Homo sapiens: one gene and its partners. The protein of the gene in region 6 interacts with the protein of the main gene of each other region in a biochemical or structural test. Each region holds a gene or a part of one and is shown on either strand. Other genes may lie near its edges.

Region 1 (3,500 bases), on a different chromosome or scaffold from region 6:
GCTGAGGCGGTGGATCACGAGGTCAGGAGTTCGAGACCAGCCTGGCCAAGATAGTGAAACCCTGTGTCTACTAAAACTACAAAAAATTAGCTGGGCGTGGTGGCAGGTGCCTGTAATCCCAGCTACTTGGGAGGCTGAGGCAGAGAAATGCTTGAACCCGGGAGGAGGAGGCTGCAGTGAGCCGAGATTGTGCCACTGCATTCCAGCCTGGGCGAAAGGGCGAGATTCCAACTCAAAAAAAAAAAAAAAAAAAAAAAAGAGTTCACCTGTGAATCCCAAATCTTTCCCCAGTGGAACAACAGAAAGCCAGTGATGGCGAAACTCAAGTGGGGAACGAAGTGTAAGGGGTATCTGTAGATGGTGATATAAACATGCAGCTTGCAAATACAGAATACAGAGATGGGGCGTTTTCTGTATATCTAGGTGAAGTTTCAATATGGTATAATAATGTCCTTTATATTAGAGGTGTTAAAGAGGAAGATGGGGAAATGAGAGATTAAGAGAATAGCATCTTTTGGGCTGGGCATGGCGGCTCACACCTGTAATCCAAGCACTTTGGGAGGCCAGGATTGCCTGAGCCCAGGAGTTTGAGACCAGCCTGGGCAACACAGTGAGACCCTGTCTCTATAAAAAATACAAAAATTAGCCAGGCATGGTGATGCATGTTTGTGGTCCTAGCTTCCTGGGAGGCTGAGGTGGGAGAATCACTTGAGCCTGGGAGGCAGAGGCTACAGTGAGCTGTGCTCCTGCCACTGTACTCCAGCCTGGACAACAGAGACTGACCCTGACTCAAAAATAAAAAAAAAAGAGAGCAGCATCTTTTGTGGGTTTAAAAACAATTTACATGTGTGTGTATGTGTGTCCAGATTAGTTTGTTTCAGGCCTATAATCCCAGCACTTTGGGAGGCTGAGGCGGGTAGATCACTTGAGGTCAGGAGTTCGAGACCAGCCTGGCCAATGTAGCAAAACCCCGTCTCTACTAAAAATACAAACATTAGCTTGGCATGGTGGCATGCACCCGTAGTCCCAGCTACTTGGGAGCCTGAGGCAGGAGAATTGCTTGAACCCGGGAGGTGGAGGTTGCAGTGATCCGAGATCGCACCACTGCACTCCAGTCTGGGTGGCAGAGCAAGACTACATCTCAAACAAACAAACAAAAAAACTGCTGAGTGAATAATTCCATTCATGAATGAGCATCCTTTGGAGACAGATGTTTGAAGGACTTATGAGATGACAGTCAAAAGTGTCAAGTTGTACTGTAGTTGCCTGTGTGTAGAGCATGTACATACAAATGTGACAAAATGTTAAAAATTAATAAAATCAGGTGAAGTGTGTGCAAGTATAACCTTTGTGTGTGTGTGTGTGTGTGTGTGTGTGTGTGAGAGAGAGACAGAATCTCACTCTGTCACCTAGGCTGGAGTACAGTGGCATGATCATGGCTCACCACAGCCTCGACCTGCTGGGCTCAAACGATCCTCCCACCTCCTATTTTTTGTAGAGGTGTGGTCCCACTGTGTTACCCAGGTTGGTCTGGTCTGAAACTCCCGAGCAAGTGATCCTCCTGCCTCGGCCTCCCAAAGTGTTGGGATTACAGGTGCCACTGTGCCCAGCCATAACCTCACCTCTTCTTGAGCTTTAAAATGGTTCAGGTCAGGCGCAGTGGCTCACGCCTGTAATCCAAGCACTTTGGGAGGCCGAGACGGGCAGATCGCAAGGTCAGGAGATGGAGACCATCCTGGCTAAAATGGTGAAACCCTGTCTCTACTAAAAATACAAAAAAATTAGCCAGGCGTGATGGTGGGCACCTGTAGTCCCAGCTACTCGGGAGGCTGAGGCAGGAGAATGGCATGAACCCAGGAGGCGGAGCTTGCAGTAAGTCGAGATTGTGCCACTGCACTCCAGCCTGGGTGACAGAGCGAGACTCCGTCTCAAAAAAAAAAAAAGGTTCAAAGGGGTGGGCACAGTGGCTCATGCCTGCAATCCTAGCACTTTGGAGGCCAAGGAGAGAGGATTGCTTGAGGCCAGGAGTTTGAGACCAACCTGGCCAATATATTAAGACCCCATCTCAAAATTTGAAATTTCTGCTGGGCGTGGTGGCTCACACCTGTAATCCCAGCACTTTGGGAGGTCAAGGCGGGTGGATCACCTGAGGTCAGGAGTTCAAGACCAGCCCGGCCAACATGGTGAAACCCCCATCTCTACTACAAATACAAAAATTAGCCGGGTGTGGTGGTGCACGCCTGTTATCCCAGCTACTCAGGAGGCTGAGGCAGGAGAATCGCTTGAACCCAGGAGGTGGAGGTTGCAGTGAGCCGAGATCATGCCACTGCATTCCAGTCTGGGTGAAAACAGTGTGCCTCCGCCTCAAAAAAAAAAAAAAAAAAGAAAGAAAGAAAGAAAGAAAAAGCCAGGTGCAGTGGCTCACGCCTGTAATCCCACTACTTTGGGAGGCTGAGGCAGGCGGATCACCTAAGGTCGGGAGTTCAAGACCAGCCTGACCAACATGTAGAAACCCTGCCTCTACTAAAAATACAAAATTAGCCGGGCGTGATGGCGCATGCCTGTAATCCCAGCTACTTGGGAGGCTGAGGCAGGAGAACTGCTTGAACCTGGGAGGCAGAGGTTGCAGTGAGAAGAGATTGTGCCACTGCACTCCAGCCTGGGCAACAAGAGCAAAACTCCGTCAAAAAAAAAAAATTGAAATTTTTTAATTTAAAAATGTTTTTTAAAATAAATTGGTTCAAAATAAAAAGGTGGCATAAGAACGTGGTCCTGCAGAAGTCTCCCTTGGACCATCCTAGTTAAGCTGCACTCTCTGTCCTACCTCTCTGCCTGTCCTCCTAGCATTTATACGGATCCCCACTTGGATCTCTGCTGCAGTAGGGTCCTTGTTGGTCCTGCTCGCTGTGGTATTTTTACTGTACTGTGTTTTACTGTAGTTACATTTTTATTGTCAGTGCCTGACAAACAGCAGGCTTGCAATCCTTTTAGAATGGACACAGATGACTGATGGGCAGCTCTTTGGCCCCCTTTTTTCTTTTCACCCTGAAATTGGTAATAATATCAAGTGTTTCAAAGCATCATATCATATGAGGTTTTACAGAATGAGAACTTCACACTTTTCTGGCATTTGCATAAGGAACGGTCACTTTGTACTTGAAGGAGGTCACATGAGAACAGTAGCCCCACAGATCAGACTAAGGACAGTCGGGGAGACTGGAAGAGCCAAAGTTCACCTCAGGATAAAATTACATATGAAAATGGCTTGTTATGTGCCAGAGGTTGCTTGATATGCTAAAATATGCTCCAAGTGCAAGCCACAAACCACCATGTCCCACAAAAGCATCATGGAGCCTGTGCCCCAGAACCCAGTTCCGTGCAGCACTCACATGCGGGGACCTCTCTCAGAAGAAAACTCGCAGTGAAACACAACAATGACACGCTTGCCATCAGTAGGTACAATGGGCTTCTTCAATAAGAAGTCTTCAACCTCTTCTTCC
Region 2 (2,549 bases), on a different chromosome or scaffold from region 6:
ACCTTAGCTACCTTGCCCCACTGCAGACCCTCTAGGCATTCCTATAGTCTGCTTTGACTGGATTTCTCCAGAACTTCTAATCTCTCAGTCTCTAAATCTTTCTGGCCCTTCATGAGCCCCTATACCTCCTTCTCCCTCCAGAAGGTCGGTTAGATTTGGACAGTACTGAGTGGGATGACATTCATGTGGTCACCGGAGCCCTGAAGCTTTTTCTCCGGGAGCTGCCCCAGCCTCTGGTGCCACCACTGCTGCTGCCCCATTTCCGTGCTGCCCTTGGTAAGGGTTGGAGCTTTGGAAAGAACCCTTGATGTGGGGGACACGGGTGGTAAATAATAGAATAGAGGTTCCCTTATACTCTTCTTTCCCATTCTGACTTTAGAGATGGAAAATAATGTTCAACTCAGGTGCCTACTCCAGTTGCTTTTTTGTGAATGTTTAGAGGGCTGAATTGAAAAGAATTATGAGGCTATAGTTGGGCTATGTGAAAAAGAAAGCTGTGCTAGATTAATGATGTCTTCCATGCCTGTGGGAAAGAGCAGTGCATTTACCCATCCTGTCCTAGCACCTTCCCTAACCTTACTACCATGCCTTTCCCATCACTCTCTCTAGCACTCTCCGAATCAGAGCAGTGCCTCTCTCAGATACAAGAATTAATAGGCTCAATGCCAAAGCCCAACCATGACACTCTACGGTACCTCCTGGAGCATTTATGCAGGTCAGGAAGACAGAACCTCTTTGTTCATGCTGGGGAAAGGTGGAGTGGGGAATGCCACAGGGACTCTGTGCAGGTGGAGTGAAGGTAGGGAAGCACCTAAGTTTAATGGGCAGGTGAGGAAGCAGGCAACCTCTGTGCAGGAGCATATTACCAGAGTCAAAACCTTTATTTTTTTATTTTATTTATTTTTGAGACAGAGTCTCGCTCTGTCACCCAGACTGGAGTGCAGTGGCGCAATTTCAGCTCACTGCAACCTCTGCCTCCCGGGTTCAAGTAATTCTCCTGCCTCAGCCTCCTGAGTAACTGGGATTACAGGTGCCCGCCACCACGCCTGGCTAATTTTTGTATTTTTAGTAGAGACGGGGTTTCACCATGTTGGCCAGGCTGGTCTCGAACTCCTGACCTCAGGTGATTTACCCACCTCAGCCTCCCAAAGTGCTGGGATTACACCGTGCCCGTCAAAGACTTTAGGTCAAAACCTAAAGGTCAGCATCAAGTGGGGAAATGGAACCAAGATGCTGTGAAAGGAATAAGGGAAATCTTACTTCTCCCTTCCCTCTGCCTCTTTGTCTCCCATTGGGACATTGCTGATGGCTTCTTTGGTTGAACTGGGCCTGGGCAGTGACTTCTGAGAGAGGATGGCCACTTGAATTAAAGACTCCCAAACTGTGAGCAGGCAGAACTCTTGGGGCAGCCCCTGAAGTCGGAAGAGGCAGTTATATCTTCAGGTTGTATCCTGAAGGTTTCTCCACTGGTCCATCTCCATTCTCCTTGTATCTCCTTGGTTTTTTTGTTACCATGTGGAGGAATCCCAGAGTGAACTCTTCCCTGCTCAGAACTTTGAAGGGTTAGTTAGATTGCTATGAAGTGGCAAGCTGCTGCCATATATCCCCTTCCTTGGCCTTTGCTTACAGGGTGATAGCACACTCAGATAAGAATCGCATGACACCCCACAACCTGGGAATTGTGTTTGGACCAACCCTGTTTCGGCCAGAGCAGGAGACATCTGACCCAGCAGCCCATGCTCTCTACCCAGGGCAGCTGGTCCAGCTGATGCTCACCAACTTCACCAGCCTCTTCCCCTGATGCAGGGAAGGAAGAAGAGAAAACATATTTCCGGTCATCTCTGGTGGTGAGAGGCTGGTGTTCTGTTTTGAGGATATCCCTTTAAATCTCCCAAATGACTGTCTCTATCTTCATGAGTGTGACTTGAGGTGTTGGGATGGGTGAGGGAGCTTCTCTAAAGAGGAAAGTGAGTGGATTAACCCCTGCTTCTCTTCTTGTTCCCTGTTATCATTCCTCCCCAACATAATAATACATAAAGTGGCATGGTATTTTTTCTGATGCAGTTCCTTTATTATCAGGAAACAGTGTCATTATCAAATTTCTCCTCAAAACGTATACAGACTATACATAGCCCCCAGCCCATACCTCCCATCCCTGGGGCATCTTGTGCATGGGACTGCAGCTCCCCCAATTTTTCTGGAAGGATAGAAACCCCTTAGGAAATGCGATCTGTGATGGATGAGATTCCCTACTCTTTAGGCACTAGAGTTGAGGAATTCTGTTTCCCCAGGTAGGGATCTCAGTAAGACACTCATGTTGCCCACAGCCATGTTGGGGGGCCCAGAGGGAGGTGGGGTATGTCCAGAGCTGCCCCGCTGATCATGGGAAGGAGGAGGACTCAGCCCCTGGGGCTCATCCAGAATAGCCACAAAGTCCAGCTGAGTGTTGTCAAGATCAAGAGAGTCCAGGGGGTTACATACCTGTCCTTCGGGAGGAGGGTACAAGGCAGGACCCCCTCCTAGCCTGCCCACCTCAGGATGACCACAGC
Region 3 (3,500 bases), on a different chromosome or scaffold from region 6:
AGCAAAATCAAAAGAATTTACTACTCTCTTTCTGAAAATGCCAGGCACATAGAGCATCTTACTGGGGCTTCAGTTTCAGACCTAAATAACATAAGCTTATTATTAAGCAGAAATGAATGAAAGCTAAGATGAAACTCAATAAGATACTGACCGATTTTTCCAAAAGGATCATCCTTGAAAGGATCACCTGTGATAAAATAAACACAAAGAAATCCAAATAACAATATTTACTGTGGTGACACCACTACTTAAAGAGTAACTTTCAAACAAAAGCAAAGCAAAGTTTATTTCAATAACTTCACTTCACAGTAGATAAAATAAGGAATGTCATTGACCTTATGAAATATACAGCCAACTATACTTACCTTGATCACAAGTTGAGGTTACGGATGGAGGGGAAGACATTACAGCAAAAATTTTACTAACAAAATCTCTACTCTCCACAAGAGTACTGGGAGGGTATTATCATCACCAGTTCAGAAATAAAGGTACTGAGCTTTACTGAAGCAAAAAAAAAAAAATTCTTACAGGATTGAAGAGTCCAGAAATAAATCCTTACCTTTATGGTCATTTGATTTTTGACAAGCGTATCAAGAACACAAAATGGAGAAAGGACAGTCTTTTCAACAAATGGTGTTAGGACAACTGGATATCCACTTGCAAAAGAATGAAGCTCGACCTCTATCTCACATCATATACAAAAATAAACTCAAAATGGATCAAAGATCTAACTGTAACAGCAAAACTATAAAACTCTTAGACAAAGACAGCATTAAATCTTTGCGACTTAGGTAATAGTTTCTTAGATGACACCAAAAGCACAAGTGACAGAAGAAAAAATAGATAACTGGACTTCACCAAAATTGAATAAACACTTTTCCAAAGAAGATACACAAATGGCTAATAAGCATCTAGAAAGATGTTCAACATTAGTCAGTAGGAAAATACAAAGCAGGCCAGGCGCAGTGGCTCACACCTGTAATCCCAGCACTTTAGAAGGCCGAGGCAGGCGGATCACCTTACATCAGGAGTTCAAGACCAGCCTGGTCAAAATGGTGAAACCCAGTCTCTACTAAAAATACAAAAATTAGGCCAGACGCGGTGGCTCACGCCTGTAATCCCAGCACTTTGGGAGGCCAACGTGGGCGGATCACGAGGTCAAGAGATGGAGACCATCCTGGCCAACATGGTGAAACCCCGCCTCTACTAAAAACACAAAAGTTAGCTGGGTGTGGTGGCAGGCACCTGCAATCCCAACTACTCAGGAGGCTGAGGCAGGAGATTAGCTTGAATCCGGGAGGCAGAAGTTGCAGTGAGCCGAGATTGTGCCACTGCACTCCAGCCTGGCGACAGAGCGAGACTCCATTTCTAAATAAATTAATTACATAAATAAATAAATACACACATACATACATACATACATACATAAAATTAGCTGGGTGTGGTGGTGGGCGCCTGTAGTCTCAGCTACTCAAGAGGCTGAGACAGGAGAATCGCTTGAACCCAGGAGGCGGAGGTTGCAGTGAGCCGAGATCGTGCCACTGCACTCCAGCCTGGGCGACAGACTGAGTTGGTAGGCTATTGAAACTGAAGCCTTGAATCCTTAGTTTATATATTAAAAAGTCTTTTTTTTGGGTAAATCTATAATATAAAAAAAAGAGTACTTACTGCCAACAAAAGGATCAGACTGGAAAAAATCCAAGTTTGTATCTGCAACTGGACCTGTCAGCGAACTTGAGTCTACATTAAATGGATCTTCCTAAAAATAATTTTAAATTAAAATTATTTTTTAGAAACCAAAGTTTTAAAAGGTAACATTTTAAAATAAAATAACACACATTCAGGTCATACACATGCTTTGAAAAATCAACTGATGGGCCAGGCACGGTGGCTCACACCTGTAATCCCAGCACTTTGGGAGGCTGACGTGGGCAGATCACAAGGTCAAGAGATAGAGACCATCCTGGCCAAAATGGTGAAACCCCGTCTCTACCAAAAACACAAAAATTAGCTGGGCATGTGCAGCTACTCAGGAGGCTGAGGCAGGAGAATTGCTTGAACCTGGGAGGTGGAGGTTGCAGTGAGCCAAGATCACACTACTGCACTCAAGGCTGGGTGACAGAGTGAGACTTGGTCTTGAAAACAAAAGGAAAATCAACTGATGGTAATGTAACAAATATCTCTCTAGTCATAAAGCACCTTTAACACATTTTTCTCTTTCCTTCACCTTAACATATTTTTCTCTTTCCTTCACCTAAAATAGTGTATAATTCATCTGAGGAAAACAGTGATAAGGACATTTTTTTAAAATATCATTTAATTTTTAGAGATTAGGTCCCTCTATGTTGCCTAGTGCCTCCAACTCAGGCTCAAGCAATCCACCTACTTCACCTCCTGAGTAGCTGGGACTACAGGCACTTGCCACCACATCCAGCTATTAAGAACATTTATTTATTTTATATGTATAAATTCAAGGGGCACAAGTGGAATTTTGTTACATGGCTATATTGCCTAAAGGTGAAGTCGGGGCTTTTGATGTATCTATCATCTGAATAATGTATATTGTACCCATTAAGTAATGTCTGATAATTCACCTCCTCCTGTCCTTCCACCCTTACAAGTCCCCAATGTAAATATAAAATCATTTTTTACCTCTTTTGAATGTCTATTATTGTCGAGTTCAGAACAAACTTTTTCAGTAACAGCTGTAGTCACCTCATTTTCATCAGTCACACCAGAAGGCAGTAGTTCAGGACTACTTCTTGCCTACAAAATATTAATGCAAGTAGATTAACAATATACTTTTTGACATGGCAGAGAAAACTGACTAAAGATAACCAAAAACTATTTAAAAATAAAAAAAGACAAGCAGAATGTATTCATCAAATAACTTCTCCTTCTATAATCTTTTTTAGGGAAATGGTGTCATCAAGCATCAAAGTCACTCATGTCAGAAACCTTCAGGTCATCTTTAATCCTCAGAATATGACTCCAAGTCTTGCTCAGTCTACCTCTTACCTCTTTTTCAAATCCTTGCCTTCTTCTCCATCCTCACTGTCACTATCAATCACTTATAGTACTATCATCTTTGGTTCCAATTACTATAGCAGTCTTCCTTCCAACTGCTTTCCTGCCTCCAATACATGTATTTCCAATCTCTTCTCCTTATTGTAGCCAAACTAATAGCTCTAAAATGTGGATGTGATCGTGACCCTTCTGGTTAAAAGTCCTTCAATGGCTTCCCATTGTCTTCTTCATTTAGACGAGTGGGTGAAAGACTTAAGAAGTAGTAGGGGCAGGCCGGATGCAGTGGCTCACACCTGTAATCCCAGCACTTTGGGAGGCCGAGGCAGGCAGATCACAAGGTCAGGAGATCGAGACCTTCCTGGCTAACACGGTGAAACCCCGTCTCTACTAAAAATGCAAAAAATTAGCCAGGTGTGGTGGCACACGCCTGTAGTCCCAGCTACTCGGGAGGCTGAGGCAGGAGAATAGCTTAA
Region 4 (3,500 bases), on a different chromosome or scaffold from region 6:
TGGTGTGCACCTGTAGTCCTAGCTGGGAGGCTGAGGCAGGAGGATCGCTTGAGCCTAGGAGCTCACAGTTACAGTGAGCTATGTTTGCACTATGGCACTCCAGCCTGGATGAACAGAGTGAGACCCTGTCTGAAAAAACAAATGTAGCCCTTAGCCTAACATTCCCACCACCCTCAAACACCTGCTTCCCACCTTTGAAACCTTCTCAAACCTTCTCTCTGGTTTCTTCTCCAAGGCAGGCTGTTTTCGAATGAGCACTTTGCTCAGTCCCACTGCAGGGCTTTCTCGCACACATTTCCCTTCTCCTCTCTGCCAGTTGTGTGTGTTAAATTAATTCCTTTGCTTGAAGACACAGTTTAGGGCTCATGTCTCCCAAGATGCATGCTGGTGAACCTCAACTCCAGTATAGTCACTTGTTTTTTTCATTTTTAAAAGACGTCATCAAAAGAGTTGTGGTTATAAAAACAGTTGTAAGCACATTGCAGAAAATTTGAAAAACAGAGAAAAGGAAACCTATAACCTCAACATCGTAACGCATGTTACTGTCATTGTTTTATTTCCTTCCAGCCTTCTTCTTTTTTTATTAAAATCTCTTTTGAAAATATGTATCAGCCAGTATCAGCTGGATGCCTACCATGTGCCTAGCGTTAAGTCTTTTGGGGGATTGTTAGAAGCAAGCAAGATCCTTCTAGGTCCTTATAATCTAGGTTTTGAGATAGATAATTATTAAAATTAATGAGAGAGTATTGTCAACATTAAAAAACAAAAACCCAGACTCCTTCCAGTAAGGATTTGAAGCAGTTTTCAATAATAGGTTAGAACCAAAAGATACACATATTCTCACACATACACATTATAATGGTATAAAGGAGCAATAATCAAGTAATAGGGGCTAGGAAATGTACAGTAACTGACAAAAAGTCTGAATTGCTACTTCTTATTGAAATTGAGTAGAAACCTTAGCTTTGAGCTTCTTAGCAGTAGGGCAGAAAGGGAAGGAAACACTGAGAGTAACGTGGGGTAAATGATAGCTGAGAAGGAAGGGGATGCTGGAGGCACAGGAAGGCATGAGACTGTGTACACGAGTTTATATGTTCTTACTTGTATAGCATGCAATTCTTTGTTTGAGTGTTGCTTGGTATTCATTTGTTAGTGTTTTATTGTGTTTGGTTTCCTGATCTAGAAGGGAAGCTGCTTGCTGCTTAATTATTCATATGCTACCCAAAACCTGTATGTTGCTTTATATATGATGAATAATTATGTTATATATAATAATCATTACACTAGAAACTTATATTTATAGCATAGGCAGTGAGATTGAATAGCTTTGTATTATTCAGCTGCCAAAGTAAGATTCTTTGCGCATCTGTTAATCGCAAGAATTTTAACACAAGGTTCAGTAGACTTTTGGTAGTATCTACCAAGAATGAAAAGGGGAGAATTCAGCTTCATGACTGAGCACACATGTAATTATTTAGAATTGAGGCAGTCATGGAACTGGCCAGAATGTTAGTAGCTTCCAGGCTGTGTGGAATAACCTCGTCCCCTGCCACATGTACATATTGTTAAGCCCCTCAGCAGTGAGAGATGGCAGCACTGCTTGGATTTCCTTGGTTCTTTGGTTCTAACAAAGTGTCCGTGAGTCCTTCCATCATGTTGTGGGGAATTGAGATAATGCCATAAGACAATAACTCCTGGTATCAAGGAAGGGATAAAAGTTCTCTTGGATCTCATTAAAGTGACCTGCTAAACCTGATTCATAGCCTATACAAGGTTTTCTTCTAAAACTCAGTAAATAAAGTTGAGCCATTTTATGACATACAGAAAAGTTGCTTAAAATAGGGAGGCCAGGGGCAGTGGCTCACTCCTGTAATCCCAGCACTTTGGGAGGCTGAGGTGGACGGATCACTTGAGGCCAGGAGTTAGAGACCAGCCTGCCCAACATGGTGAAACCGCAACTCCACTAAAAATAGAAAAATTAGCCAGGCGTGGTGCTGCACACCTGTAATCCCAGCTACTCTGGAGGCTAAGGCAGGAGAATCACTTGAATCCGGGAGGCGGAGATTGCAATGAGCCGACATCGTGCACTCCAGCCTGGGCGACAGAGCAAGACTCTATCTCAAAATAGTAATAATGATTTTAAAAAATGTAATTATATTTCTTAGGTAATCAGGGAAAAATTTGAAGTGTCAGATAACAGGAATATATTAAATATTACCCATATCTTAGGGGAAAATACTAACATAAGTCAGGAAACCTGAGTTAGTAGTAGCTTGCTTATTAACGAATTGCTTATTAACAAACAGTTTTGGACCCCAGTTGTCCTGCATGTCAGTGGTGAGGGAATTATCTTCCCCTGCCTCCTCAAAAGAATATTGCGAGGATAAATATGATATACACAGATGAGATTTGCGTAGAGGTTTTCAGGTGGAAGACACTGAGTAAGTAAATGGAAACAAGATTTCACTGCTGAACAAAATAGTTAGTAGTGACCTTTCTTGCATTTGACTTATACAGAGAAAGCAAAAGCCTCCAATGGATGTGTTCTAGTGCACTGTTTAGCTGGGATCTCCCGCTCCGCCACCATCGCTATCGCCTACATCATGAAGAGGATGGACATGTCTTTAGATGAAGCTTACAGGTGAGGGCAGGAAAATGTCTTCTGTGATTGGCTTTTCATTTGACCTGAAACATAAAGAATGATGAGGATGGGTAACCAAATTAAAGCAGATCATGATTATTTTAGTCACATTTTTTACAGGTTACTGTGGATTTTTTAATGGTCTTGTGAAGATTGGAAAAGAATGCTGTTTTACTATTTAGCATTAATTCTGCCTTCACATGTGTCAGACTCATCCTCAGCCACTTTTTATGTTTAAGGAACAACAGATCCAGGCAGAGATCTCTATCCTGTTACATGAGTTTATTGCTTTCCCTAAATGCAAAAGTATCCTTTGTTTTAATTTGCATATGATGGGGGGAAGCTCTAATAGAATGCTCACTGCAGAATCTCTGTTCTGCTTCAAACTTTGGATTGCTGGGAAGAAAAAGCCTCATAAATGCAAATATGAACCAGATTAACTGTCAGACTCCATTCTTCAGTAAAATTTCCTACATTCTAGAGTCGGCCAGATTGTGTGTGTGTGATTTTGACTGGGTTGCCTCCAGTCTCTGATTTGTCTGACTCCCCTGCATGTATCGTTGGGTAGAGATGGTTCATTTTTATCTGATAAGGAATCAAAAATATAGAGACTCATGGAGCAGGCCTGATTTAACAGTTGGATTTTTTTTTTCTCAAATTGCAAAGTTTGGAAAACAGAAATGAGCTGCCCAAACAGCTTCCCATGTTAAGTCAGCAGCCTGGAGGACGTGGGTCCTCTGGTCATCTGCACGAGCTCTCATGCCGCCGTTCAGACCTCCCTGAGGTCCTCCTGCTCCATGTAGAAATCAGAAGAAAAGGCACCCTTCTATCACGTTATGAAGTCTCATTATGAGCACCC
Region 5 (2,695 bases), about 18 Mb from region 6:
ATAAAACCTGCACATTCGGAGGGCTGGCTTTTGGTATACTCAGGTTCTGCAGGGTCCACTGCTGAAATTTGTGGATTGTGGTTTGGGGGCGGGAGAACTGGGGGGGGGGGGGAGTGCAGTTCTGGGAACAATCTCCTGCACACACCAAGAGACAACTGTAGTTTTTGTGTATGTATTTCCAAGAACTTTAATAAACACTATCCAGTAACTTACCAAGGAAGATAGAAGCACAAAGAGAAATGAATGTGTGTATTTTCAACTTTTAAAAAAGGTACCTAAGTCGATATGCAAATTAGGCATGATTCCTAGCACCAGGCAAGAAGTAGGGTACCTTCTATATGTTGTGCATTCAGATACTTTCAGATACTTTCCCTTTCTCTTAGGAGTTGTCTAAATCATGTCAATGTATTCTTCTAATGAGACACTGTTAATCTTTATTTTACAAAGTCCCCCCAATAATACTGTGTGCCTTCATTATGAGGTAAAACTAGAACAAAAAGTATGTCATAATTTTTTATTGATGGCATTTATCCCATGGTTTAACATGTTAATTATACTGTAATAAACATGGCTTTAATATTAAACTTTTCCTTATTATCCAAAGTCACCACAGTCCATTTTAGTAAATATAAAAATATATGCTTAATACTTTGTACAATACTGGTTTTTGGTCCAAACAAAACTGGATCAGAAAAGCCAATAAATTCAACTTTAAGAATCCCCAATTTTTTTTTTAAAGATTTCCAAATGGATTTAGGCAACTTTGAATAATGGGATTTACATAATAAAATCTGAGACAAGACTAAACAAACAACAAAAAAATCTCTAACACAAAATTCAAATTTCAAGTTCACAGATTTATGTTATGCCAAAAAGTACAGAAACAAAATTGTATTTACACAAGTTTCATAATAAAATAATGAAAAAGGCAAGACAGGTGATAGGAGAATGAAAATATAGAAATAGCATATAATTATTAAATGGAGAGTGAACTAGATCTAACAAGTCCTTAGCACGGACCATTCTTTAATCAGGCTTCCTCTATCAGAAAAGTTTAGCGCACAATACACCCAACTCACTCACTTCACACATACACCAGCACAAACTCAGCATAGAAATCATCCGTTTCAACACTCTCTAATCTATACAGAATTCTAATCTATACAGAATTCCTCAGATATAATTACAATTTCAACGCGTTCCATGAACGCTTATCAGCGCACATAATGGTGTAGACAAAGAGGTTCTATACAAAGCCATTCACCGTGCAGGCTCCATTCCTGGGTACAGCCAGACTATGTCAAATCAGTGAATAATCTGCTGGATCATAAAATATTTTTGCTGAAGAATCAGTCACCAGTCTAGCTATTTATTTATTTAAAAAAGGGTGGGTGAGGCAGGGTGGGGCTTCTGTAACGAAAGAGAAAGGAGGAAAATTCCAAAATTAAAGAAGTCCTTAGGCAGATCTGACTTCAGATAACCCCAGCACAAAGTACAATCCAGTATCTGAAAGCAGGGCACCAGCTGTTGTTAAAATTGAGTACAACACCAATGTGACCTTTATTTCCTGCGTCTAACAGCAGTCTTTATCTTGCGACCAGAGAATGAAGTTCCAGAAGAAGAGAACACATTTTTCCCATTTGACCTGTGAAAAATAAAAACTTCATAATGTGACATGATGCTCTGAGCAAAATTTCCAAATGCTAACATTTACCATGAGCAGCACAAGGGTAAGGGGGGTCGGGTGGGGGGGGAGTAGACTCACATTGGTATATACATTTTCTGCTACACCTAACACACACGCTACTGTTATTTTTTTCTCAAACTGTAATATAATCCTCCAGAATTATAGTATGGTAAATTTATGTTGGAGAACATATTTAATTTTACCCAAACCATACGGAATCTTGATGACTTTTAAAAACAAAACATATACATGCACATACCCTTACCAATGTAACTTCTCCATTTCAATAAAAAATTCTCTTACCCCACTGTAAATGCTGCTGGAGACTGGTTAAATGGAAAGCCCCCCGAGCCTGAAGGCTGGGCTGAGGCTGCAGGTGTGCTAGAATTTGCACCAAATGTGAACACTCCTGATGGACTGTTGTTTGTGAAGTTGAAATTTGTAGTGCTGCTGCCAAACTGGAAAGCCGAACCTGCAATAGTTAAAGCAGAAATACTTCATTAGGGCAAAATGATAGGTTTTTTTGTTTGTTTGTTTGTTTTTTGAGACGGAGTCTCGCTCTCTTGCCCAGGCTGGAGTACAGTGGCACAATCTTGGCTCACTGCAACCCTTGCCTCCTGGGTTCAAGTGATTCCCCTGCCTCAGCCTCCCCAGTAGCTGGGACTATATAGGTGCGTGCCACCATGCCTGGCTAATTTTTTGTATTTTAGTAGAGACGTGGTTTCACCATGTTGGCCAGGATGGTCTCGATCTCCTGACCTTGTGATCTGTCCACCTCGGCCTCCCAAAGTGCTGGATTACAGGCGTAAGCCACTGCACCCGGCCGCAACATGATAGGTTTTTAAATTAAAGACTCTGACCTTTACATATAAAAACATGCAAAGAATTAAAATATTCTGGTCTTTTAATCTAAAGAAAACTATTTTCTCCACTGACACATAGTACATACTTGACACCTCCAACAAATCACACAACTTACCTATGACCAAGGGGAAAAGGGCACCCTGG
Region 6 (3,500 bases):
CCCCATTTTTCCCAGGATGCTGGTTTCTAACTACTGGGCTCAAGGAAACCTACCTTGGCCTCCCAAAGTGCAGGAATTACAGGTGTGAGCCACTCACTGCACCTGGCCAGAATATAGCTTCTTAAGGCAGAAATTTTTGTCTCTTTTGTTCACATTTCATCTCCAGCACTTACGGCAAACCATACATGGTAGGCACTCAAGGTATAATGAGTCCTGTCCTCAAGGAGATTACCATGAACCTATGCTCCTTCCCCTTTCTCTCTACAATCTTGTACCCTGTAACACTCTTTTGTAACTTTGTAACACAAAGTTCAGAAAATGGCACTAAAATATATCCATTTGCCCAAGGCCAAAACTTAGAAATCCTAGACTCCTCACTCTCCTATACTTCTTTCCCCCAACATTCAGCCTTGGAGCCAAGCATGCCCAAAACCCAGTATCCATTTGTCAAGTACAGAATTTACAAACCACCACTTCTTCTTCCCTATAATAAATTATTAAAAGACTTGAACACTGCACGGGAAAGCTGGTTAATTTTGTAAATCCTTAACACATACATACAGGTGTACCTCAAAGATATCATGAGTTCAGTTCCAGACAACCACAACACAGTGAATATCACAAAAAAATGAGTGACATAAATTTTTTGGTTTCCCAGTGCATATAAAAGTTATATTTACATGATACTGTAGTCTATTAAGTATGCACTAGCAGTATGTCAAAAAAATATATATATGCACATACCTTAATTTAAAAATATTTTATTAGCCGGGCACAGTGGCTCATACCTATTACTCTCAGCACTTTGGGAGGCCGAGGCAGGAGGATCGCTTGAGGTCAAGAGTTTGAGACCAGCCTAGCCAACATGGTGAAACCCCATCTCTATTAAAAATACAAAAATTGGCTGGGCATGGTGGTGCACACCTGTAATCCCAGCTACTCGGGAGGCTAAGGTGGGAGAATTGCTTGAACCTGGGAGGTGGAGGGTGCAGTGAGCCAAGATCGTGCCACTGCACTCCAGGCTGGGCAACAGAGCGAGACTCCATCTAGAAAAAATAAATAAATAAATAAATATTTTTTTGCTAAAAAATGCTAAGGGTCACCTGAGCCTTCAGCAAGTTATTATCTTCTTGCTGGTGGAGGGTCTTGTCTCAGTGTTGATGGCTGCTGCCTACTCAGGGTGATGGCTGCTGACTACTCAGGGTGATAACTGCTGAAGACTGGAATGACTATGGCAATTTCTAAAAATAAGACAACGGTGAATTGCTGCATTGATTTATTCTTCCTTTCGTGATAGATTTCTCTGTAGCCTGCAATGGTGTTTGATAGCATTTTACCCACAGTAGAACTACTTTCAAAATGGGAGTCAATCCTCTCAAACCTTGCTGCTGCTTTATCAACTAAGTTTATGTAATATTCTAAACCCTTTGTTGTCATTTCAACAATGTTCATAAGCATCTTCCCCAACAGCAGATTCCACCTCAAGAAACTACTTTATTTATTCATTCCTGAGAAGCAATTTCTCATCTATTGATTTTTTTTTTTTTTTTTTGAGATGTACTCTTGCTCTATCGCCCAGGCTGGAGTGCAGTGGCACGATCTCGGTTGCCACTTGGTTGCAGTGGCTCACTGCAACCTCCACTTCCCAGGTTCAAGCAATTCTCCTGCCTCAGCCTCCCAAGCAGCTGGGACTATAGGTGTACACCACAACACCAAAAAATATAAAAAACAAATTTTTGTATTTTTTCTAGAGGCAGAGTTTCGCCATGTTGGCCAGGCTGGTCTCAAACTCCTGACCTCAGATGATCTGCCTGCCTCAGCCTCCCAAAGTGCTGAAATTACAGGTGTTAGCCACCGCCCCCAGCCACCTTGCACTATAAGTTATGCTATGGAGACAGGTTCTTTCCTTAAACCTATGAACCACCCTCTGCTAGCTTCAAACTTATCTTTTGCAGCTTTCTCACCTGTCTCAAACTTCATACAATTAAAGAGAGTTAGGGCTTTGCTCTAGATTAGGCTTTGACTTAAGGGCATGTTGTGGTTGGTCTGATCTTTTATCCAGACCACTAAAACTTTCTCCAGCTCAGCAACAAGGCTGTGTTGCTTTCTAATCATTCATTTGTTTACTGGAATATAATTTTTAATTTCCTTCAAAAACTTTTCATTTGCATTCACAAATTGGCTGTTTGGTACAAGAAGCCTAGCTTTCAGCTTATCTCAGTTTTCGACATGCCTTCCTCACTATGCTTAATCATTTCTAGCTTTTGATTTAAAGTAAGAGACATGCAAACATTCCTTTCACTTGAACATTCAGAAACCACTGTAGTGTTATTAATTGGCCTAATTTCAGTATTATTGTGTCTCAGGGAATAAGGACGCCTTAGGAGATGGAGAGAGGGAACAGCTGGTTGGCAGAGCAGTCAGAACACACACAATGTTTATCAATTAAGTCTGCCTATGGGCATGGTTCCAGACACCTCAAAACAATTACAACAGCAACATCAAAGATCAGTGATCTCAGATCCCCATAATATTTAATAATAATGAGAAAGTTTGAAATATTGCGAGAACTGCCGGGCACAGTGGCTCACACCTGTAATCCCAGCAGAACTGCCGGGCATGGTGGCTCACACCTGTAATCCCAGCACTTTGGGAGGCCAAGGCAGGCAGATCACAAGGTCAGGAGTTCGAGACCAGCCTGACCAACATGGTGAAACCCCATCTCTACTAAAAATACAAAAATTAGCCAGGTGTGGTGGCACATGCCTGTAGTCCCAGCTACTTGGGAGGCTGAGGCAGGAGAATCACTTGAAACCGGAAGGCGGAGGTTGCAGTGAGCCGAGATCGCACCATGGCACTCCAGTCTGGGCGACAGAGCAGAACTCCGTCTCAAAAAAAAAAAAAAAAAAAGAAAGAAAGAAATATTGCGAGAATTACCAAAATGTGACACAGAGACATGAAGTGAGCACATGCTTTTGGAAAAATGGTGCCAAAAGACTCGCTTACCACAGGGTTGTCACTAACCTTCAATTTGCAAAAAAAAAGCAATTATCTGTGAAGCATAATAAAACGAGTTGTGCCTGTGCTTAATTTATGGAAGCACTGTGAAAGACAAACTACTCTGAATACTGAAAGTTTCTTTTACAAAAACATTTCCAAGTTTAAAGAAGTTTTTGGTTATTTTCCTGACGAAACAGCTGCATGACTTCCATAGCAGCCATGAGAAGACATCCCTAAGTTCCAAGTCAGGGGAGCCCACTTTATAATGAGGCTTTTCTGAGCACTGCAGTAATTATACCTCTTAGATAAGAACAAATCAGTTTTACCCCAAATTTTACTGCAAAAAGCAAAAATCTAATGTATTTTCAAAGGGCTGGAGAGGCAGTTATTTCTATTTATATCCTATACTTATGTAACACAAACATGTACAGACAGTCCCAACTTTACATAAATGTACACTGAAGAATTTCAATCCAATAGGATTCATAAATTCAGGAATT
Region 7 (3,500 bases), on a different chromosome or scaffold from region 6:
GAGGCGGAGCTTGCAGTGAGCCGAGATCGCACCACTGTACTCCAGCCTGACGACAGAGTGGGACTCTGTGTCAAACACACACACACACACACACACACACACACACACACACACACACACACAGAGTTAACATAGCCCGCAAAGAAGACTATAAAACAGTCTTAGTGGCCGGGCGCAGTGGTTCACGCTTGTAATCCCAGCACTTTGGGAGGCCGAGGCAGGTGGATCATGAGGTCAGGAGTTTGAGACCAGCCTGGCCAACACAGTGAAACCCCATCTCTACTAAAAATACAAAAATTAGCTGGACATGGTTTCGGGCGCCCGTAATCCCAGCTACTCAGGAGGCTGAGGCAGGAGAGTTGCTTGAACCCAGGAGGCAGAGGCAGGAGAGTTGCTTGAACCCAGGAGGCAGAGGTTGCAGTGGGCGACAGAGCAAGACTCTGTCTCAAAAAACAAAAAAGTCTTAGTGTTTCCTATGTTTAGGGATTAGTGTGAGGATTAAAGGTTGTAAACTCATTTCCACCTAGTTGGCATTCAGTAAATGAGAATTGACATTTAGTACTAATTGTTTCGGGTATTTTGTTTTTTGTTTTTTGTTTTTTGTTTTTTCTGAGACCGAGTCTTGCTCTGTCATCCAGGCTAGAATGCATGGTGCGATCTCGGCTCACTGCAAGCTCCGCCTCCCGGGTTCACACCATTCTCCTGCCTCAGCCTCCCACGTAGCTGGGACTACAGGCGCCCGCCACCACGCCTGGCTAATTTTTTGTATTTTTAGTAGAGACGGGGTTTCACCATGATCTCGATCTCCTGACCTCGTGATCCACCCGCCTCAGCCTCCCAAAGTGCTGGGATTACAGGTGTGAGCCACCGTGCCCGGCCAGTTTTTTGTTTTTGAGATGGAGTCTTGCATTGTCACCCAGGCTGGAGTACAGTGGCGTGATCTCGGCTCACTGCAACCTCCACCTCCTGGGTTCAAGTGATTCTCCTGCCTCAGTTTCCCTAGTAGCTGGGATTACAGGCACCTGCCACCATGCCTGGCTAATTTTTCTATTTTTAGTAGAGATGGGGTTTCACCATGTTGGCCAGGCTGATCTTGAACTCCTGACCTCAGGTGATCCACCCGCCTCGGCCTCCCAAAGTGCTGGGATTACAGGTGTGAACCACTGTGCCCGGCCATGTACCGATTATTTTTAACATCATTAAGTAGCTGGTATCATTCCCATTTTACAATAAGGAAACTGAGGCTCAGAGAGTCTGTGTCAGTTTCCTGAGGTTGCTGTAATAAATTGTTAGAAACTTGATTATTTAAAACAGCAGAAAATGGTCAGGCACAGTGGCTCACACCTGTAATCCCAGCACTTTGGGAGGCCGAGGCGGGCAGATCACTGGAGGTCAGGAGTTCGAGACCAGCCTGGCCAACATGGTGAAACACCATCTCTACTAAAAGTACAAAAATTAGCTGGGCATGGTGGCAGGCGCCTGTAATCCCAGCTACTCGGGAAATTGAGGCAGGAGAATCGCTTGAACCCAGGAGGCAGAGGTTGCAGTGAGCCACAATCGTACCACTGCACTCTTGCCTGGACAACAAAGCAAGACTCCATCTCAAGATAAAATAAACAGCAGAAATTTATTCCCTCTTAGTTTTGGAAGCCAGAAGGTTGAAATCCAACAGGGCTGCGCTCCCTCCAGGGCGATCTAGGGGAGAATGCATTCCTTGCCTCTTCCACCTTCTGGTTGTTTTGCATTCCTGGGCTTGTGGCCGCATCACTCCAGTCTCCACCCCTGTCTTCACAGGGCCACCTCCTCCTCTTCTGCTGTGTCTTCTCTGTGTCTCTCTCAAGAGGGCATTTGCAGTGGCATTTGGGGCCCACCCAGATCATCCAGCATCATCTCATCTCCAGATCCTTAACTTAATCCCATCTGCAAAAGACCCTTTTTCTGACCCAGTAACATTCACAGATTCCAGAGACCTGACATGGTTCCCTTTTGGGACCAGCACAGAGTTCATGACTTGTGCAAAGTCACGCAGCTGATCGGTGCCTCGAACTCCTTGTCCAGGGCTCTGCCCCTTGCTCCTCAGAGCTCCCAAAGGCTTGCTCAGACCTGGTGGGGTTGGGGGAAAGAGCCTAAGCCTGGGTTCCCATAGAGGTTGCCGGCATCTGCCTCCTGGGCCTGGACCTCCCGGCCGGGGCATCCTCCCAGCTGGCCTGGTCCCCTGCCTTTTGGCATCCCTGGCACCCCCATGTGTTCATCTGCTGACAGTCGGTCTCTTTATCCAGGCCGCAGCTATGATGAGAAGGTGGATGTGTTCTCCTTTGGGATCGTCCTGTGCGAGGTAGGTCCAGGGTTGGGTAGCAGCGGTGTTGAGGCCTGGGCTCCTCCCCACTCACCCAGGCTGCAGGCTCAGCATCTGCAGGGGCCTCATGCCAGGAAGCCTGCCCACAGCAAGGCATGGGCTGGCCCCCATGGGGTACTGCAGTCAGGCTGCAGCCAGGCCCAGTGCCACCTGCCCTCAAACCACCTGGATGGCACCCAGATGCCCAGGCTGAGGGCCCCCTGGAGTAACTGCCGGGCCTTGTACTGGACAGATCATCGGGCGGGTGAACGCAGACCCTGACTACCTGCCCCGCACCATGGACTTTGGCCTCAACGTGCGAGGATTCCTGGACCGCTACTGCCCCCCAAACTGCCCCCCGAGCTTCTTCCCCATCACCGTGCGCTGTTGCGATCTGGACCCCGAGAAGAGGTGAGTGGGGTGGGGCCCTGGCCTGGGAGACGGTGGGGCCGATTCCCGGGACAGCCAGACCCACCGTTCCCCACCCACCTGTCACCCAGGCCATCCTTTGTGAAGCTGGAACACTGGCTGGAGACCCTCCGCATGCACCTGGCCGGCCACCTGCCACTGGGCCCACAGCTGGAGCAGCTGGACAGAGGTTTCTGGGAGACCTACCGGCGCGGCGAGAGCGGACTGCCTGCCCACCCTGAGGTCCCCGACTGAGCCAGGGCCACTCAGCTGCCCCTGTCCCCACCTCTGGAGAATCCACCCCCACCAGATTCCTCCGCGGGAGGTGGCCCTCAGCTGGGACAGTGGGGACCCAGGCTTCTCCTCAGAGCCAGGCCCTGACTTGCCTTCTCCCACCCCGTGGACCGCTTCCCCTGCCTTCTCTCTGCCGTGGCCCAGAGCCGGCCCAGCTGCACACACACACCATGCTCTCGCCCTGCTGTAACCTCTGTCTTGGCAGGGCTGTCCCCTCTTGCTTCTCCTTGCATGAGCTGGAGGGCCTGTGTGAGTTACGCCCCTTTCCACACGCCGCTGCCCCAGCAACCCTGTTCACGCTCCACCTGTCTGGTCCATAGCTCCCTGGAGGCTGGGCCAGGAGGCAGCCTCCGAACCATGCCCCATATAACGCTTGGGTGCGTGGGAGGGCGCACATCAGGGCAGAGGCCAAGTTCCAGGTGTCTGTGTTCCCAGGAACCAAATGGGGAGTCTGGGGCCCGTT

What was found.
Region 1: the proteins of MAPK14 (region 6) and CDC25A form a complex in vitro, tested with the Homo sapiens proteins (one study listed by BioGRID).
Region 2: the proteins of MAPK14 (region 6) and ARHGAP9 are reported together in a solved structure, tested with the Homo sapiens proteins (one study listed by BioGRID).
Region 3: of the proteins of MAPK14 (region 6) and EPS15, one has a biochemical effect on the other in vitro, tested with the Homo sapiens proteins (one study listed by BioGRID).
Region 4: the proteins of MAPK14 (region 6) and DUSP16 form a complex in vitro, tested with the Homo sapiens proteins (one study listed by BioGRID).
Region 5: the proteins of MAPK14 (region 6) and NUP153 form a complex in vitro, tested with the Homo sapiens proteins (one study listed by IntAct).
Region 7: of the proteins of MAPK14 (region 6) and LIMK1, one has a biochemical effect on the other in vitro, tested with the Homo sapiens proteins (one study listed by BioGRID and IntAct).

Annotation. Positions count from the first base shown.
Region 1 is NC_000003.12:48,160,918-48,164,417, forward strand, and holds part of CDC25A (M-phase inducer phosphatase 1), read right to left. Parts: coding exon 3,390-3,500; intron 1-3,389. UniProt on the Homo sapiens protein: Tyrosine protein phosphatase which functions as a dosage-dependent inducer of mitotic progression. Directly dephosphorylates CDK1 and stimulates its kinase activity. Also dephosphorylates CDK2 in complex with cyclin-E, in vitro.
Region 2 is NC_000012.12:57,471,769-57,474,317, reverse strand, and holds the end of ARHGAP9 (rho GTPase-activating protein 9), read left to right. Parts: intron 1-141; coding exon 142-276; intron 277-609; coding exon 610-715; intron 716-1,629; coding exon 1,630-1,801; 3' UTR 1,802-2,049; downstream 2,050-2,549. Other genes in the region: zinc finger protein GLI1, read right to left, coding at 2,257-2,549. UniProt on the Homo sapiens protein: GTPase activator for the Rho-type GTPases by converting them to an inactive GDP-bound state. Has a substantial GAP activity toward CDC42 and RAC1 and less toward RHOA. Has a role in regulating adhesion of hematopoietic cells to the extracellular matrix.
Region 3 is NC_000001.11:51,400,767-51,404,266, forward strand, and holds part of EPS15 (epidermal growth factor receptor substrate 15), read right to left. Parts: intron 2,767-3,500; coding exon 2,653-2,766; intron 1,760-2,652; coding exon 1,669-1,759; intron 188-1,668; coding exon 152-187; intron 1-151. UniProt on the Homo sapiens protein: Involved in cell growth regulation. May be involved in the regulation of mitogenic signals and control of cell proliferation. Involved in the internalization of ligand-inducible receptors of the receptor tyrosine kinase (RTK) type, in particular EGFR.
Region 4 is NC_000012.12:12,479,364-12,482,863, reverse strand, and holds part of DUSP16 (dual specificity protein phosphatase 16), read left to right. Parts: intron 1-2,517; coding exon 2,518-2,641; intron 2,642-3,500. UniProt on the Homo sapiens protein: Dual specificity protein phosphatase involved in the inactivation of MAP kinases. Dephosphorylates MAPK10 bound to ARRB2.
Region 5 is NC_000006.12:17,614,537-17,617,231, forward strand, and holds the end of NUP153 (nuclear pore complex protein Nup153), read right to left. Parts: intron 2,160-2,695; coding exon 1,991-2,159; intron 1,646-1,990; coding exon 1,561-1,645; 3' UTR 501-1,560; downstream 1-500. UniProt on the Homo sapiens protein: Component of the nuclear pore complex (NPC), a complex required for the trafficking across the nuclear envelope. Functions as a scaffolding element in the nuclear phase of the NPC essential for normal nucleocytoplasmic transport of proteins and mRNAs.
Region 6 is NC_000006.12:36,034,308-36,037,807, reverse strand, and holds part of MAPK14 (mitogen-activated protein kinase 14), read right to left. Parts: intron 1-3,500. UniProt on the Homo sapiens protein: Serine/threonine kinase which acts as an essential component of the MAP kinase signal transduction pathway.
Region 7 is NC_000007.14:74,118,304-74,121,803, forward strand, and holds part of LIMK1 (LIM domain kinase 1), read left to right. Parts: intron 1-2,279; coding exon 2,280-2,335; intron 2,336-2,588; coding exon 2,589-2,746; intron 2,747-2,835; coding exon 2,836-2,998; 3' UTR 2,999-3,500. UniProt on the Homo sapiens protein: Serine/threonine-protein kinase that plays an essential role in the regulation of actin filament dynamics. Acts downstream of several Rho family GTPase signal transduction pathways.